Linked DNA regions of Homo sapiens: region 1 is linked to region 2. Evidence: fine-mapped expression QTL. Tissue or cell type: whole blood. Region 2 holds a variant in brackets; the other region holds the start of a gene. All regions are shown on one strand. Distances are from middle to middle.

Region 1 (9,141 bases), 57 kb before region 2:
GGTGAGGGAAAGCGTGGAACATCTTAGAGCCTTAAGTGGCTGTGACCAAAATGCTGACAGAAATGTAGACAGTGAAGGCCAGGCTGATGAGGTCTCACATGGAATTAAGGAAGTTATCAGGAACTGTAGTAAAGGTCATCCATACTATGCCCTAGCAAAGAACTCTGCTGCATTGTGTCCATGTCCTAGGCATCTGTGGAAGTTGGAACTTAAGAGTGATGACTTAGGGTATCTAGTGGAAGAAATCATTAAGCAACAAAACATCCAAGATGTGCTGTGGCTGCTTCTAACAGCCTATGATCAGATAGATGTGGGAGCAAAGGAATGACTTAAAAATTGGGACTTATACTTAAAAAGGAAAGCGGAGTCTAAAAGTTTGGAAAATGTGCAGCCTGGCCATGTGGTAGAGAAGAAAAGCATTTTCAGGAGAGGAATTCAACCAGGCTGTACAGCAACTTGCTAGAGAGGTTAGCATGGCTAAAAGAGAGCCAAGTGCTAATAGCCAACACAATGAGAAAAAGGCTTGAAGGCATTTCAGAAGTCTTTCAGACTGCCTGTCCGACCACAGGCCCAGAGGCCTAGAAGGAAAGAATAGAAAGTAGGCTGTCTTCCTTATTTTTCTCTTTTAATTGGGCACTCTTTGTTTTGTTGTTGTTGTTTTGTTTTTAGTACTCAACTTTCTGAGTGACTTTTAAACTGAAATCAGAAGGAAAAGAAGGTAGCTAGGTAACAAGTTGCAGTCAGATGAAGAGAGTATTTCAGACAGCAGAAAGAGTTTGCAGGAAGGGAAAGAACCTAAAGTAGGAAAGATCCTGAGAAGTTGGAGGAACTAAAAGAAAATCAGTAAGGCAGAATTTGACTTCCCATTCCCAGCAGATTAAAGTTCACATGCTTATCAAGAACCTTCACATTCTGGCCTCAACCTATCTTTCCTACTCCCCTTTATATTACTTTTCTTCATTTGCAACCCACTCTTGACTACCCCAGATTACTTCCATTCCTGCCTACCACAGATCACATATTTCATACCTCTATGCCATTATTCATGCTGTTTCTTCTGCCTAAAATGTTCCTTTTTTGAAATCTTTCAGATCCCATGAGGCATAATTTATCTCTCTGTTCTTTGTAACTCCAGAGTACTTTGTTTATAACTCTTCCACTACATTTCTAAGACTGATTTATAATTATGTACACACTTGTTTTCTCCACAAGATTATGACTATAAGCCATGTCAGTTATTTTTATATCTCCTTCCCTGATCTTCCAAACATAAAATGCAGTGCTTAGTAAATGTGTGCTGATTTAATATGTTAATATGAGTTTTTGTATTAGGTTACAGCTATATCATTTTTAACTACATCATACTAGATTATTAGTATTAAATTAAATTACAAAGAATGTGTTCCATAACAATAAATAGCTTGTAATCATAACCAATTTTGTGTAGAAAACCAATAAGGATTATAGTTGAGAAGTAAAAGTATTCCTTCAAGATCACTGAGAGTAAAACAGACTAAGGACAGTTCCCTTAAAAATTACTAAGTCATGCCCTATTGTTAAGTTTTCTTGTCACAGTTAAGAATAATCTGAAGATAAAGAAAAACATGTTTACCACTTTTAAAACAGAAGAAGCATAATTACTTAATAAGGTCTTCTGAGTGATAATTATTCCAACATTAGTCCAGCCAGATATGTTCATAGAAATGTGCTAACCTCTTTTTCCCCGAGTACCATTCAATGAAGAACCAATGTAAAACCAGAGGAAGCATTGCCATAAATCCAAGATAGAGCCAATCATAAAGTTCAGGAGATTCTGTGCAAGGCTGACAATATTTCTGTGCATTCGTTCTCTGTCCTCTTGGGCATACCTATAATATATAAAACCAATATTTTGTGTACAGATATTATTTTACAACATTAACACCCCCCCAAATCATTCTATAAGACATCCCATTTCAGTTTAAATATTTAAGTTTACATGTGCAGCTTTTAGAAATAAAAAAGAGGGCATAAGTAAAATAAAAAGAAATCTATATTGTATGTGCTATATTTGTACAATGCTCTTAGAAGATTCCTTTTACTAAGTTACTAAAATAGTTGACTAACATTCAATGAAAAACCTAGTTATTAACATTATATAAGAATAACTGCAGATAAATGTTCTGGATTCATGATGTTCAACTTACTGTACAAGACACGGTACCAAATCATAAATTAGAAATTATTATAAAATTATTAAATGTTTTAAAAAATAATATAGACATCAAAATGCCAACATGAACAATGACTATATTAATGCCTCCATATTCTTTTATATTTCCTTATTTTATTTTTTTTTTGAGACAGAGTCTCCCTCTGTTGCCCACGCTGGAATGCAGTGGTGCAATCTTGGCTCACTGCAACCTCCACCTCCTAGGTTCAAGCAATTCTCCTGTCTCAGCCTCCCGAGTAGCTGGGACTACAGGCGCACACAACTATGCCCAGCTAATTTTTTTCTATTTTTAGCAGAGATGGGGTTTCACCATATTGGTCAGGCTGGTCTCGAACTCCTGACCTCAAGTGATCTACCCACCTAGGCTTCCCAAAGTGCTGGGATTACAGGCATGAGCCACTGCGCCTGGTCCTCCATATTCTTTTATAAATTAATGAGTATAATAACAAAAAATGTTGTATGTGAAAATATTTCAAAAGCAAATAGATTTTACAAAATGAAATAAGATACAAACATAAGACTTACCCCACATTCTCCATATATTTCAGTTGAGCCATTTTTAAATAATAGGGTCTTCCCACAATAAAGTCCAAGGCATGCTGGTTGAATATCGACAGCTTTTTAAAAACAAATGCCAGTATAGTAACATCTTTTGTGATTATAAAAAATAATTGCAATAATAGCTGAAGCATTTGGCAAAAATAACAGTTTCAAATTTTTGAATAATATGTATTAGACAAAAGTCTTGAAGCATTTTTAAATTTACATTTCTCCTTTTACACTGTGACACTGCAGACAGTTATCCTGGAACCTTGCTGTTAATACCGTGCCTTATGATTAAGGTCCTCAACCAGCAGAGCAGGATCTATCTCCAGGACTCAAAGCCTAACCCGGTATGATTAGAGGATACTTCTGAGTTTAACTGATTATAAAGTTCAAATATACATATATTTTTAAATTAGAGCACCAGTAGAGGGTCACCACCTTGTATTTTGCCCAGTCAGGACATTAAGCACCCACATGTAGACACACAATTATCATTATCACCTATGTTCATAACAGAACACATTTTCACATGGGAAAAGCAGAGAGAACATAATTTCATAACAGAGGTATGCAAATTACCTTTATAAAAAGTTTCCTACATTGTCCTAGCTTTTATCATTTTTGTGGAGGATAAGTGAAAATTTCATCAAGGCTGTCACTGGGCCAATATTTTAGAAACCACTGCATTAAAATTAAGCCCCTGATCTAAAGGCTTAGGGGAAAAGCAGCTATTCCTTACTTAAAAAAACCCCAACAACTAAGAACCTAATACGTTGTCTTTGACCTTATTCACAAGAAATTATGGAAGTTTTCTTCATCAGTGACATCTGATTCCCTTCATTCATTCATTGATTAAAACAAACAAACAGGCTCGGTGAGGTGGCTCACGCCTGTAATCCCAGCACTTTGGGAGGTCGAGGTGGGCAGATCATGAGGTCAGGAGTTCCAGACCAGCCTGGCCAAAATGGTGAAACCCCGTCTCTACTAAAAATACAAAAATTAGCCTGACGTGGTGGCGCGCGCCTGTAGTCCCAGCTACTGGGGAGGCTGAGGCAGGAGAATCGCTTGAACCCAGGAGGCAGAGGTTGCAGTGAGCCGAGATCGCGCCACTGCACTCCAGCCTGGGCTACAGAAGGAGACTCCGTCTCAAAACAAACTGCGGTCTACATGTGAATTAATTTGAAAAATTATGCATCTTTTGACTATTCTTGAACAATCATTTCCCAAATTATTCACGAATTCACAATCTAGACTGCCTGGTCTACAGTGCCTTCTCTCCTTTCACATTCAAGCAGACTTTTTACTTCCTTCTCCTTATGCTGCTGAGAGAAAAAGAGAAACAGCATTGAATAATATTCCTCCAGTTTAATATTTTCGCTTTTAACAAATTTCGGACTTAGCTTTTTAAACCCACTGGCCTCTTTAATGGGCGCTTATTTTTTTTGTAACCAATTGTAATCACAATGTTCTAAATTAATACATGAAAATGAATATTTCAGGTTTTTCAAGAATGCAGAAGGTAAGGAATTGGAAACTTCTGTATGGGCTTTACATCTAGTAGATGCTTAATAAATACACGTGAATATCAATAATCTAAAGTTTCTCAAAATCCAAGGCCTGAAAACCAGTATGATAAACTGAACTGAAATAAACAGCCTATCACTTACTAAGCAAAACCCAGGCTCCAAGCGACTGTTGAATTTCTCCTTTCATTTCCTTTAGCGAACGATGGCTAAAGTTTTAAGATTCCATTTTTTTGCAGCGGTCCTGCCCTTTGTGACGGGCGCTATAAATCTACGTTTGAGGTTGAAGCAGTAGACAAATTATGCAGCAACTTGCTTCTGCTTTACTGTTTTTTCTGCACTATCACCCGCGTTTTCAATTCCGAAGTCAACCCTCAAGCAAGTGTTCCCTCGACATTAAACTAAGGGACTGAAGAGACATTTCGGACCAAACAACAAAGACCTGGCATTTCGCCGCAGACAGCGCGCCTCCCCTAGTAGCCCGTTGCGGACAGACCACCCCAACCCCGCAGGAGTGCGGAGCCCGGCCCGAGGGCGGGCGGGGTCAAGGGGCGAGCCTGCGCCGCCAACCGAAGGCCGCCTACAAAGAGCCGAGCCCGAGGCCAGCCGTGTAGGAAAGTAGTCGGGACTACCAGAAACGCTTCCCGGGATCTTGGCGACCACTCACCCATGGGCCGCCTGAAGGTTTTTTTCGAGAAGCACTAGATCAGCGGATCTGGCAGCTGCACCGAACATCCGGGCCACAGCGAGCTCGGCGGCTCCGCCTCCCGGTAACCCGGGCGACAGCTCCGAAGTTCCTCCCTCGCTTCCGGGTTTAGGCTCCGAGACCCCGCCCCCCGGACGTGGCTGGTTAGCGTCCCGCCCTCCTCCCGCGGAGTCAGTGGGTGAGGGTCGGGCTTGAAGCCATAGCTGCGGGACCGTACTCGTCTCCCCCGACGCAGACCATGGAGAGCGCGCTGGCGGTGCCCCGGCTGCCCCCGCATGATCCAGGGACGCCGGTGCTGTCGGTGGTGGACATGCACACGGGCGGCGAGCCCTTGCGTATCGTGCTGGCGGGGTGTCCGGAGGTGTCTGGGCCCACCCTGCTGGCCAAGCGGCGCTACATGCGCCAGCACCTTGACCACGTGCGGCGACGGCTCATGTTCGAGCCCCGAGGGCACCGGGACATGTACGGGGCGGTCCTAGTCCCGAGCGAGCTGCCGGACGCGCATCTGGGCGTCCTGTTCCTGCACAACGAGGGCTACAGCTCCATGTGCGGCCACGCAGTGCTGGCGCTGGGCCGCTTCGCTTTGGACTTCGGGCTTGTGCCGGCGCCCCCTGCGGGCACCCGCGAGGCCCGCGTCAATATCCACTGCCCCTGCGGGCTGGTGACCGCCTTCGTGGCATGCGAGGACGGCCGCAGCCACGGACCGGTGCGCTTCCACAGCGTCCCGGCCTTCGTGCTGGCCACAGGTAATGGGCGGGACCTTTCCAGCCCAGGGCAGAGCTGCAACCGGGACGCGACTAACTACATTAACGGTTTTTCTGGGCTGGAACTCTGGCAACTAACCTACTCCGCGAAACCTTGCAATTAATAGAAAGGTAAATCACTGCCAACGTGTGTCAGCAGCCTTGCGTATTTGGTGCGTGTAATTTCGATTTTCCCTGACTCCCATCCGCCTGTGGTTTTGGGAGACCCTTGAGGAGCGAGGAATTGCGTGTTACCCTGACTCAGCGCCTCCCTCTGCACTGGTGAGGCATTCCTAGAGATTTCACCGGTGGATAAAGCAAGGTACGGTGGGGTCAAGGAAAGAGCGAAGAACAGCCAATGTACCAGGGTTCCAGGCTGGCTGAGAATATGCTTGGTAGACACAGAATCACACTTAATAAGTTACTAAACCTGGTCTCCTTTCCTCACCTCCCCCACTTCTTTGAAGAATTAAATGAGAATGAATGAACAAAGCAGTTTATAAATCATTAAGATACGAATGTTGCTTTTCTTTAAGAACAGGAACACACATTGCCTGGTTTCAAATCCTGATAACCCCCTAAAGCTGTGCAACCTTAGGCAAATTACTTAATCTCTCTGTGCCTGTGTTTCTTCTTTTCCCTCATAGAGTTTTTTTGTTAGGATTAAATGAGAGTATGCAAGATACTGTATTCCTGGAGATAGATTGCAAGGTTTATATGATCGCTAAAGTTCCCTAGGCCTATTGAGCCATTAAAAGGTTTTGCTGGATTCTCTAGTACAGATCCTTGTACAGCTTATCATGTAAAGCAGGGCATCTCTATAACCATAACCCTTACAGGAGGGATGACCTGGCAAGCTGGCATCTGGTTTCTCATCAGACTACTACCTCCCAGGAGCTGAATTCTATCAGTAAGAATGCTTTAGTCATTGTGACTGGAAGTGAGCCAGGAGCCAGTTTACCAGGAATAGAGTTATCCTTTTCTTAAAAATCTTCAAGCCATGCAAATCATCTGTTAGAAAGTTGGACCTTGATTCCCCCTGAAGAACTAGGTTTCAGATTAGCCTGATTATGAATGATAACTGATAGAACAGGCACTTTTAGAGCAACCTTAGGCAGCTGAAATCCACGAGTTAACGAAGAATGCCTCTGGAGAAATTGATGCCATTTTCCCAGAGAATGGTGTCACTTCCAGACTGGGAGGCCACTTGAGGGAGACAGAATTTATGTTTACGATTCCATTTTTAAAACCTCAACAGTTTAACTAGCGTGGCTACCAGAATTCCCCCTAGGCAACTCCAGCAGCAGAGTAGAAACACTCTAGACTTCTGTAGGAAATGGCAGCTGGCAGCAGGAACACAAACTACATCTCATTTCTGGGTCAGTTAGGGCAGGGTCAGTCAACCACTTGACCTCAGTAGTTCCTCTCAGTAGTTCCTGAGAGCATCACTGTATGACAGTACAATGATTAGTGGGCATTAATGGTCACTGAGTTAAGAAAATGAAATGCTATATTCTCTACTTTGAAAAATGCATACAAGGCAGACATAGTGTTCAAGGTCACTGCCCCACCTCTCCCCATCTCAGTGACCTTGTGCTAGAGAGTCCATGCCTCAGTATCACAGTCTGCAAAATGAGGATGACAACAGTACCCACCTCAGAGGGTTGCTGAGTTCATCTCCACCCCACCAGGCTAAAATGCAAACTCTTTCTTGTTCACAGTATTCTAAGTGCCTAGAAGAGTAGTCAGTCAATGAATGTTTGTTGAATGAGTAACTAAATAAATGAAATTTGGAGAAGAATATGCTGATTGACAAATGTAAACATCTGGTCCTCTTGAGAAACCTATTGCCACTGGAAATTAAAGTTTTGGCTTTCGAGTCCCTAATCTGTGCCAGGAACTCCCCATACGTGGAATTTTCAAAACAACTCTTTTAGGAGAAATAGCAGTTACAGTTTGCACAAGACACCAAAGCCACACTAATGGCAGAACTAGGGTTGGAACCCTGGCCTATCATATTGCTTCCCTCTCATCCTTAAAATTTTTTGTAGTTTAAGGAGATATGTTTCAATTTTCTAGAATAGTGCTTAGTGTATTTTAAAGCATTTTAAAATCTGTCTTGTCCAACTAAACTCCAAGAAGGGGAAAAGCCTATGTTTTATTCCTTGTACTTCTCGTATCTTCTACAGTAATCGGCACATAGTAGGTGCTCACTAAATCTTGAGCAAAGTAAATCAAATTGAAATTTCAGTGATATGCTTGTATAGAAGAAAAGAAAAACCCTTAGATTTTGGATTGTGTTCTGGATAGAGGTTGTATATTTTAGTAGAAAGGGTTTGGGCTTTGGAGTCACCTGGTCCTGGGTTTGACCCCAAGCTCTGCCACTTATTTAGTGGGTAAACCAGGGAATAATGTAAAGATAGTAAGTAAAACAGTACCTACCTCTCAGGGCTGTAGTAATTAAGGCACTAATGTAATGAATTAAGGGGCTAGTGTATGTAAAGACCTGCCACATAGGAAGTACTCATGGGTGAAATAAATATCTTAATTTTTAATGTTAGTAATTTAGTGATTAAAAAATGAAATAGTCACAGATAATTGGTGGACAAGAGTAACTTTAAAGGAAATTTGGTCCATTTTAAAGAAAAGGAAACTGAAACTCAGTGAGGTGTAGCACCCTACCCAACTGCCCACCCTAAGAAAACCAGACCCAAGATTCTAGAAAGGTTGGGCCAGGGAAATGATTGTAGGCTCAGGGATGACTTCTCCTGAACCAGCTTCCCAATTTCATCCTGGTCCCGGGATTGGTGGCCAATGCCCCATTTAGTTGTTACAATCAAGGGAAGAGGGCAGGCCGACTGAACCCTGGGACCGTCACCTGTGTCTCCTGGTAAGTGCTGATCTTCACCCTCACTTTAGCTTTCCACCTTCCAGCAGTCCCTCATTTCTATCAACTTGCCCATTCTCTTTTCATTAAACTTGCTTTTCATGTTGCGCCAGCATCAAGATAAAGACATTTTTTATTCAGTTTTGTTGTTACAATCCACAGCATGTTTTACTCTTTTGATTATAAACTTGCTCTGTTTTAACACATCATGGGTTAAAAGGGCTTCTGTGGACTAGTGTGGACTAATAGCATACTGATAGCCTTCTGTGGACTGATAGCATACTGATATCTTTGTATGACCTTGTATGAAAACTCAGGAACACAAGATATATTTTCTTTCCCAAAACTTAATTTCTGAAGCTGAAACTCTACTCTGTCCTTTTGGTTCACTTAGCCTCATCACTCCATGTGTTGTCCCCTTTCCTGATATGTGTGAGCAAAGGTTTCTTAAAAGTGCTGTGGCCTTGGAGAGGATGGCACTTCAGTCCTCAGCTTACACAGTTAACCAGCAAAGTGGAGCAGGA
Region 2 (9,141 bases):
TTTATTAGTGATGGGGTTTCACCATGTTGGCCAGGCTGGTCTTGAACTCCTGGCTTCAAGTGATCTGCCCATCTTGGCCTCCCAAAGTGCTGGGATTGCAGATGTGAGTCACTGCACCTGACCTAAAAATAATTTCTAATATGAGCTTTTTTACTGGCAGAGTACAAAAAAGTTAATTATTAGAGATTATACAATGTCTCGCTACGCGAGTTGACTGATTTTTTTGTTTTTGTTTTGTTTGGTAAGCTTTCAAGTGCACAGTCTACATAGAGTTTATAAGAAGTAAATCTTGCTTTCAAATTAGTATTTCAATAAAATTAGACACAAGAAAGAGTAAGCTATTGCTTCATCATATTTTCCCCTCTTTATTTTCTTCTCCTTCAATTAATTTCTTGTTGCTATTGTAACAAATTACCACAAATGCAGTGATTTAAGACAACACATATTTATTCTTCTCTTAAACTTTGGAAGTCAGAAATCAGAAATGAATCTTATAGGGCTAAAATCAAGGTGTCAGCAGGGCTGATTCCTTCTGATGGCTTCAGAGGGAATATTCCTTGCCTCACCCAGCTTCCAGTGGCTGCCAGTTTCCTTGGCTATGGCCATATCATTCCAATATCTGCTTTCCTTAACAAATTCTCTTCTCCTCTCTCTGAACTCCTCCCTCCTTTTTGTAAGGAACCTTACAATTACATCAGGCCCACCTGCATAATACAGGCTAATCTCTCATCTCAAGATCCTTAACTTAGTCACATCTGCAAAGTTCCTTTTACCATGCAAGGTGACATATTCACATGTTCTGAGGATTAAGACATGGACCTCTTTGGAGGACTACCACTCGGCCTACCACAATATAGAACACGTATTTTTAAAATAACATATCCTAAATCACTTTTTGAAGTGAGGTAGGTACATGCCATGATCCAACCAACCAATCATTTCTCATTGATATCTCCTTCTTGCTTCCTCTGCTTTATCACTTAAATGCCTATCTAGTTCAGAGGAGGTATGAACTTAAAAAAAAACAAAACAAAACAGTAGGTTCATTTCCAGCACTGAATACTTCATTGATTCATGATATTAACTCAAGTAAGTGCTTTTTACTGGATTAGAAGGAGGGAAGTTGAACTTCACCTGTAACCTGACATTTGTCTGAAGGGCACACTGCCATCACTAGAGTGATGCATGAATCAGTCTGAACAGGGTGAAACAAGTGACATCCAAGTTACAGTTGAACACAGGATTTCGAGAGATCATCTTTTTAGGATTAAAATATTATTATAGATTTTTTATTCTGAAAAAGTTTTTGATTCCCATGCAGTTGTAAGAAATAATACAGAGACGCCATGTACTTTTATTTTATTTTATTTATTTATTTTTTTTGAGATGGAGTCTCACTCTGCCGCCCAGGCTGGAGTGCAGTGGCACAATCTTGGCTCACTGCAAGCCCGCCTCCTGGGTTCAGGCCATTCTCCTGCCTCAGCCCCCTGAGTAGCTGGGACTACAGGCGCCCACCACCATGCCCGGCTAATTTTTTGTATTTTTAGTAGAGATGGGGTTTCACCATGTTAGCCAGGATGGTCTCGATCTCCTGACCTCGTAATCTGCCCGCCTCGGCCTCCCAAAGTGCTGGGATTACAGGCGTGAGCCACCGCGCCCGGCCAATCTCATGTACTTTTAACCCAGTTTTACCAATAGCAACGTCTTGCAAAACTATGGTACACTATTACATCCAGAATATTGATGTAGATACAGACAAAATACAGGTCGTTTCATCACCAACACAATCCTTCATGCCCTTTAAAGCCATTTCCACTTCCCTCCCACATTCTTAACCCTTAGAAAACATGAATCTTTTGTCCATTTCTATAATTTTGACATTTTAAGAATGTTATATAAATGGAATCATACAGTATGCAACATTTTGGTATCAGCTTTATTCACATGGTATAATCCTCTGGAGATTCACCCAGGTTTGATGTGTTAATAATTGGCTTCTTTGTATAGCTGAGTGGTATTCTATCATATAGATGTATTGCAGTTTAACCTATTCATCTGTTGAAAGACATCTAGGTTATTTCCATTTGGGGGTTATTACAAATAGAGCTCATATGAACTCTAGCGTACAGGTTTTTGTGTGAACATAAGTTGTCACTTCTCTGGGATTAATGCCCAGGAGTGCAATTGTTTGGTTGCATAGTTACGTGTTTAGCTTTTTAAGCAACTGCCAAACTGCTTTCCAGAGTGGCTATACCATTTTACATTCCCACCAGTAGTGCACGAGTGACATAGTTTCTCCCTATCTTTGCCAGTATTTGTATCATCACCCTTTTTTATTTTAGCTATTCTGATAGGTGTGCAGTGATATCTCATTGCGGTTTTCATCTGAATTTCCCTAGTGGCTAATGATGGTGAACATCTTTGTGTGTGTTCATTTTCTTATGTAAACTGCTGTCTCCAGAGCACCTTTTGTGTTGCTATGAGGTGCACATGACAGCCAAGAGGGCTCGGCTTAAGGCCTGTAATTTCTGCTTCAACCAAAGCTGCTCCATTTATACCTATTTTACATATAGGGCTTCTGAGCAATTTCGTTTAAACAGAGTGTTCTTTGTTTTGTTTTTGGGTTTTTTTTTTTTTTTTTTTTTTGAGACGGAGTCTCGCTCTGTCGCCCAGGCTGGAGTGCAGTGGCACGATCTCGGCTCACTGCAAGCTCCGCCTCCCAGGTTCACGCCATTCTCCTGCCTCAGCCTCCCGAGTAGCTGGGACTACAGGCGCCTGCCACCATGCCCGGCTAATTTTTTTGTATTTTTAGTAGAGACGGGGTTTCACCATGTTAGCCAGGATGGTCTCGATTTCCTGACCTCGTGATTCGCCCGCCTCGGCCTCCCAAAGTGCTGGGATTACAGGTGTGAGCCACTGCGCTCGGCCCTTTTTTGGGTTTTTTTTAAAGGTATGAAGTCAATGTACTTCATTTAGTTTGTAGGAAATTACTTGGCTTCCCAAAATCCTAGATGAAAACTATATTCAGAAGTAGAAATAAATACACTCAAATATATTTATATAAAATATATTCGAAAGCCAACTATTTAAGCTTATATGTTTTTCTTTATTTCTTTACAGTGAATAACTACAAGCTGACTCTAATTTTAAAAAATAAAAATTTTATCTCTCACCAATTTTAAAATGGCTCAAACATCTCTCATTAATAGTTTGTGATAGCTTCCTTTCATGCAGGACCAGCACTCTGATTATCCTTCTACATGCCAGGCAGGGGGAGCTGCAGTGTGGAAGAATAAAAAGTAAAGACACAACTTGGTTATAAGACTTTTGTTATAAAAGTAATATACTTGTGACATGTAACAATGATGATGAACATGTGCAAAATGCTTGCATACAATCTGGTTTTGTGATTCTACAGATTCAGTATTAGAACATAAACCATTTCCAGGGAACATGAGTCACCCTGCAGTCCTATATTCCTTTGAAGGCAACTTCCCCTAGAGACATTAGTATTTTAGCTCCCTCCCACCCCCACGCCTATGCTCAGGTCCTCTTGCTTTTTTTCCTTAAGGAGAGGTATTTTTTGAGCAAGGCTAAAAAACTTGTCATGCTTTTTAAAAAGCCATCCCTACTACATTTTTCTTAGTCATTTTCACAGCCTAGCAGTAGGAGTGTCAGACTCTCAGTGTTCTCAGAGGGGGACACAGGAGGACATCATATAGCTTGACTGTTGCTAACTTGCCAGTAACTCATTCTGACTCAGTGAGGCCATCTGAGGTGACAGTCTGCTGTGGGACCAAAGCCAGAGAACCAAAAGACAGAGGTCACTCCATCCCAGCTCCCAGGGAGCAGCCTGACCTCCCCAGCTGCTTCATGGTCCAACCAGGGCTCCCGGCTGCCCATCCACGTGCATATAAGTGACTCTCCGGAGGAACACAGATTGGCCACAGTGGAACATTTTTCTCCCAT[G/A]TTATCATCCATCCTGATTCTTCGGCTGGGGAAATCTGTGAAAAGTCAAGGATAGGTCTGGTGAAAAGAAAATTAAAACAAAATACACGCCTGCGCCTTCATTCTGTCCACGTGCCTTCCCTGGGCATTGCTCTCCCCACAGCTATATTTAAGGGCTTCATACATGGCGGTCAGAAGCTCTCTGGAGAAGTTCCCAACTATTGGCTTATACATGGTTTTCCTTTTCTCTGTGTGTGGTAGAAGAAATCCGTGGGGGGTAATCTCTTTTGGAATCATATGTTTCATGTTCCCATTGGACCTTGGGTTCAAAAGCATAAATAAACATTTAGAAGGAGTGTTTGCCTCAAGGTAGGACCGAGGCCTGCTGGCTGAGTGCACCCTGGGGAAGAGCTTGGGCTGCCTGACCTCACGCTTCATTGGATTTCCCTCTCTAGGCACAGCCAGGAGCACAGCAAAACTGGAAGGGAGAAACAGGGTGCTGGCCAATTTCATCTTTCCCATGAAAAAGTTAATGACATTCCCACTAAATGCGCTTTAACACCAGTCAGAGGATAATAGGGCTGGCAAAGCATTCGCTCTTTTTCCTAAAGAGAGTGGAAGACCCTAGTATCTTAAAAAACAAAAATGCAAGACTTGAGCCCATCCCCAAATAATTATAGACTCAAGTCAATGATAGTGTCCATCTGGTCCTGGCCCTTCTGAGATAAATGTGGCTGAGGGTTTTAGCAGAACAGCAGTGTTGTGATAAAGCAGTGCACTATCAATTTGTGCCCTGGTTTTAATAATCTACATGTACCAGTAGCCAGAGAATTATGTGAGACACTTTGAAAAGAATGATCAAAAACTGGAATTGGGCTTTTGCATATCTCTCATTTAATCTTCATAACCACCTATCAGAAGGTATTATTATAAGCCCTGGTTTACATATGCAGGGATTGAGGGTGGCATGGCTAAATAACTTTCCCGAGGTCACACGTACAGCAATATGAAGTGCTGGAAATTGAACACAGTGTCTGGCTTCAGAACTCTCACTCCTAACCACTCAGGAATAGCCCCAAGAAGCCCAACATGAAGGGGTGTGGGGGCTCAAGGGAGAGACCCTGACAGACCAGGGGCGGGCATGAGGGCTGAGACAGAGAAAATACCCCTAGGAGTTAAAACTTGTGTTCAATCTTGAAGGGTGGAAAAAAGTTAGAAAGGGGAAGAAGGGTCAGAAGTGAGAAATAGGAAGATCAACCCAGAAAAGGCAAGGGGATGTACAAACATGCAGAGGCCATGAAGAACATGGCAAGGCTGAAGAAAGCTAGGTAGTGCGGTATGCTCAGATGATTGAATTTGGATTGAAATGAGGAAAGAGGGTGGGGACAGAAGTAGAGGCTAGAATTAAAGCTGGACAACTTTCTAAGTCATACCAAAGAGAAAGGAATTTTGAAGATTGGGAGAAGCCCGTAAAGGATTTTAGGCAGGGAGCAGGGTGACAAGATTTGCATTTAAGGAAGATCATTCTGCTTGTATAGGGGATCACTGTCAGGAAATTAGAGCCCAGAGTATGGCAGCAGAGTAAAATGTGAGACAGCAAGACCAGTTAGTAGACGATGTTTTAATCTGGTAGGAAATGACAGGGGGTAGAGACTAAGAGAGTAGAAATGGGACTGAAGAGGAGGGAACTGATTTGAGAGATATTAAGGGAAGTGAAAGGGCTCTAATGATTGATTCAATTTGAGCGCAAAAGGCCAGAGGTGTACTGATGAAATAACATTTATGCATTTCATAAAGACATAACGGTGGTACTCATTCACATGGAGAGAGCAGGGTGGAAGAAGAGGACAGGCTGGGAAAGAGAAAGGTAATGAGAGCAATTTAGAACATAATGAGTCTGAAGTAACCATAGGGCATGCAAAGAAATATTCCAACAGGAGGCTGGTTAAAAAAGCCTGGAGTTCAAGAGAGAAACTTGGGCTAGGGAAACAGATTGTTGAATCCTCCAGTGGTTTTATTTATTTATTTATTTATTTATTTATTTTTATTTATCTTTGAGACGGAGTCTCGCTCTGTTGCCCAGGCTGGAGTGAAATGGCACAATCTCGGCTCACTGCAACATCCACCTCCCAGGTTCAAGTGATTCTCCTGCCTTAGCCTCTTGAGTAGCTGGGATTACACACCCGGCTAATATTTGTATTTTTAGTAGAGACAGGGTTTCACCATGTTGGCCAGGCTAGTCTCGAACTCCTGACATCAAATGATCCACCCGCCTCGGCCTCCCAAAGTGCTGGGATTACAGGCATGAGCCACCGTGCCCGGCCCCTTCCAGTGATATTTGAGGCTGTGGAGTTGTGCCCATTTTTATATTTTCTTCCAAATGTGCTCTCCATACATGCTTTCTGATGCTGGAGCTAGGACTCTGCAAACCTCATTTCTGCTTGACCGTTTGGCTTTTTCTTAGGCTCTGCTAATAGAGGGAAGCTGCAGGGCTGGAGGGAGGACAGGATGTGAGTCTCCCTGCAACCTCACTGCTTCCCTCCAGCAGTTGCAGATCATTCCAGTAACAGCTGTTGGGGCCAGTGTGTAGTTTTTTTTTTAACACTTGCAAAACCGGCTTCCTCTTACCCCCGCTTAGAGACACTAGCAGTGACCAACTATGTCCCCTCTTCCAAGGTCTGGGTCCCTCACTAGGCAGTCTCTTTTCTACATTCTGGTTTTAGTAATTCCAGCTTCTTCCTTTGTCCTTTCAGCCCTAGAGGTGGAGTTGCTTCCTGCAGGTGCTACTTTTGCCATGTCTTAGAGTTTTCTTTTCACTCTTTGGGTTACTTAGTTAACAACTTTATACATAGTTAACAATTCTTCATGTTAATTTATCTCAGTTAACATAACTGGTGTGGTTCCATCTCCTGACTGAATCCTGACTGTTACAGGGTAAATATGGGGATATCAAAGAAAAGTATAGAGAGTAATAAAAGAAGAGAGCTTCAAAAACAGCCTGGGACCACCTACATTTAAGGACCGTCAGCCCAAGATGTGGACCAGGGAGGTGGCAGGAAATCCAAGAGGGTCTGTGTCTGCTAAGGGAAAGAATCAATCAAGGAGAGATAGAACATTAATACCAGAGAGATAATAGTTAATGGAACAAGATTCCTGAGGGAAGTGGTAGGAGTAGCCTTGTCCCCTGGAATGAAAGGAAAGGAAAAAAAGGAATGAAGGTGGGTGAGGAGTAGATTAGCTTGTGAGCGGGGAAGTTGTCAGTTGAGAATAGGGATGAAGGGAGGTGGTTGGGTCTGAGGGAGGTGGAGCCTTTGAAGAGGATGGAAGAGAAGGCTGCCAAGGGCATCCCATGGGACAGCTCTAGGGCAAGGGGAGGGGAGAAGTCCGAGAACGTGAACTTTAAGTGGCTCCAATCCATGTAACCATGTGTGTTTTTTCTTTGTTTGTTTGTTTGTTTGATTAGGACATAGCAGCCCTTTGTGGGATGTTGAAAAGTCAGACAATGGGATTAATCTAGGGAAGGAGTCTGCTCCAAAGAGACCTAGGTCTCAGCAGGAAAGGGATGAACATGGGGGACCCTCGGCCTAGGTTGTCTAAAATATGAAGTGATGGGGGGTGACAGAAAAGAAAAACCCCACACAACTCTATGTGTGCTCATGAGAGTTTGTGTAGAGGTCAACTCTCTTCTTTAACTAAAGCCATAAAAGGAAAAGTTTTCAAATGTGCTCTGGCTAGAGGGAAGAAAATTCCCTACAGAGACTGGACACTAGTTGTAATCTTCTCAATAAAACCATCATAGTTCATCCTTAGGTCCAACCTAATTTACAAATTACTCTTGTCAAATGGCTTATAAATCAGTATATTTTAATTTCTTATTTATTCTAGGTAAGGAACCTCATTGGAGAGGCAGTATGATAAAAGAGCTCAGAAAACTTTAGCGCTCCTCAAATCTGAAGAATCAGGGATATTGCTGTAATGATGTAGGTCTTACTTGAATGCTATTTTACTACTTCAAATTTTGTTAGGGCTGAGATCAAGTCTGATAAGCACCTTAACTTAGGCAAATAATTATGGTAATAAAAGATTATGCCACAGTGCGCAGGCTTCCAAACTTTTCCAACTATTTTCTTGTAAATACATTTGTACAGGGGTAGTTTTCCCCTAGGACAGACCATAATTTAAAAAACTTGTATTCACTGCAGTCCTATAAATTACTGTTTCCCCTTAATGTTGGAAAGTAGTGATTTATTTTAGCAAAACTGCAGACCTCACTAAGGCATGCTTTATGTGTATGTACTTCCCTAGGGCAAGTGAGACCTTTTCAGCATATTTGGGGAAAGCATGAAAACTATTAAATTAATTTACATGGACATTCTTAAGTTTACTCTGATTTATCATATATTTTGCACAAAATGGCTGTTATATTTGCATTATCCATGAATAACTAAAATATACAATTTTTAATAATTTCTACATTTCTAGAATGGAGCTTTATTATTGCTAAGCACTTTCAATTTTTTATGTTTGCAATTTTGCTTATGAAATAATATTCTGTAATAATATATAGAGAGCTGGGCACAGTGCCTGGTGACTGTAATTCTAACAACTCAGGAGGCTGAGGCAGGAGGATCTCTTGAGTCCAGGAGTTCGAGGATGCAGTGAGTCATGATCATGACACTGCATTCCAGTCTGGGAAACACAGCAAGACCCCACTTCCAAAAAAACAAAGTTATATCAAAGTACTTAAAAAGTACTAATAACAATGACCCGCTCACTGACATGAAATTGATTTTTAACCCTTCTCTTGTCACAGATTCATCTAAGAAGAGTATAGGAAAAATAGTCACACTGAAATAGGAATTGATTTCTTTAATTCAATCATAGAAGCATTTGAAAATAAAATGTATCCAGAAAAACACATGGCATGATGAATTTAGCATAAATGCTGAAGTGCTAAATGGTTTAAGAAAAAAATAAAAGATCCAATGCCATGAAGTGCAGCTTCCCCACTAGCTGTAGTCTGAGGATTGATGCTCGCGAACTACGGGGTAAATGTCTGCAAGAATTGTCACAAATCCGGCAGAAGTTACTTAGTAGAAAAAACACAGGAGTCAGGCAAATCAAGATTCAGCTTCTAGCTCAGCCACTTGCTCGCATTTGACCTTAGTTAACTTTTCTTAGTCCTTGTCTGAA

Which allele goes with the higher level. Alleles are on the strand shown, and positions count from the first base shown. SD is a standard deviation of normalised expression in the study named.
As copies of G replace A in region 2, the expression in whole blood of the gene that starts at base 5,134 in region 1 goes down (small effect, 0.38 SD a copy in GTEx).

The links.
Region 1: L3HYPDH starts here. The variant in region 2 is fine-mapped to the expression of L3HYPDH in whole blood (GTEx, PIP 0.91).

The regions. Positions count from the first base shown.
Region 1 is chr14:59,480,401-59,489,541 of GRCh38, reverse strand. L3HYPDH (trans-L-3-hydroxyproline dehydratase) reads left to right here and starts at 5,134. Exons shown (of 5, transcript NM_144581.2): 1 at 5,134-5,733. The coding sequence starts at 5,226. It overlaps JKAMP (JNK1/MAPK8 associated membrane protein), which reads right to left and starts at 5,025. Exons shown (of 7, transcript NM_016475.5): 1 at 4,949-5,025; 2 at 2,738-2,829; 3 at 1,714-1,868. The coding sequence starts at 4,952. LOC124903326 (a long non-coding RNA gene) reads right to left here and starts at 1,707. Exons shown (of 2, transcript XR_007064196.1): 1 at 1-1,707. RefSeq lists enhancers at 4,780-5,059, 8,575-8,674.
Region 2 is chr14:59,423,067-59,432,207 of GRCh38, reverse strand. No RefSeq gene overlaps it. Among named protein-coding and RNA genes, the nearest start is that of GPR135, 38 kb to the left of the region's middle. The variant G/A (reference allele first, on the strand shown) is at 3,970.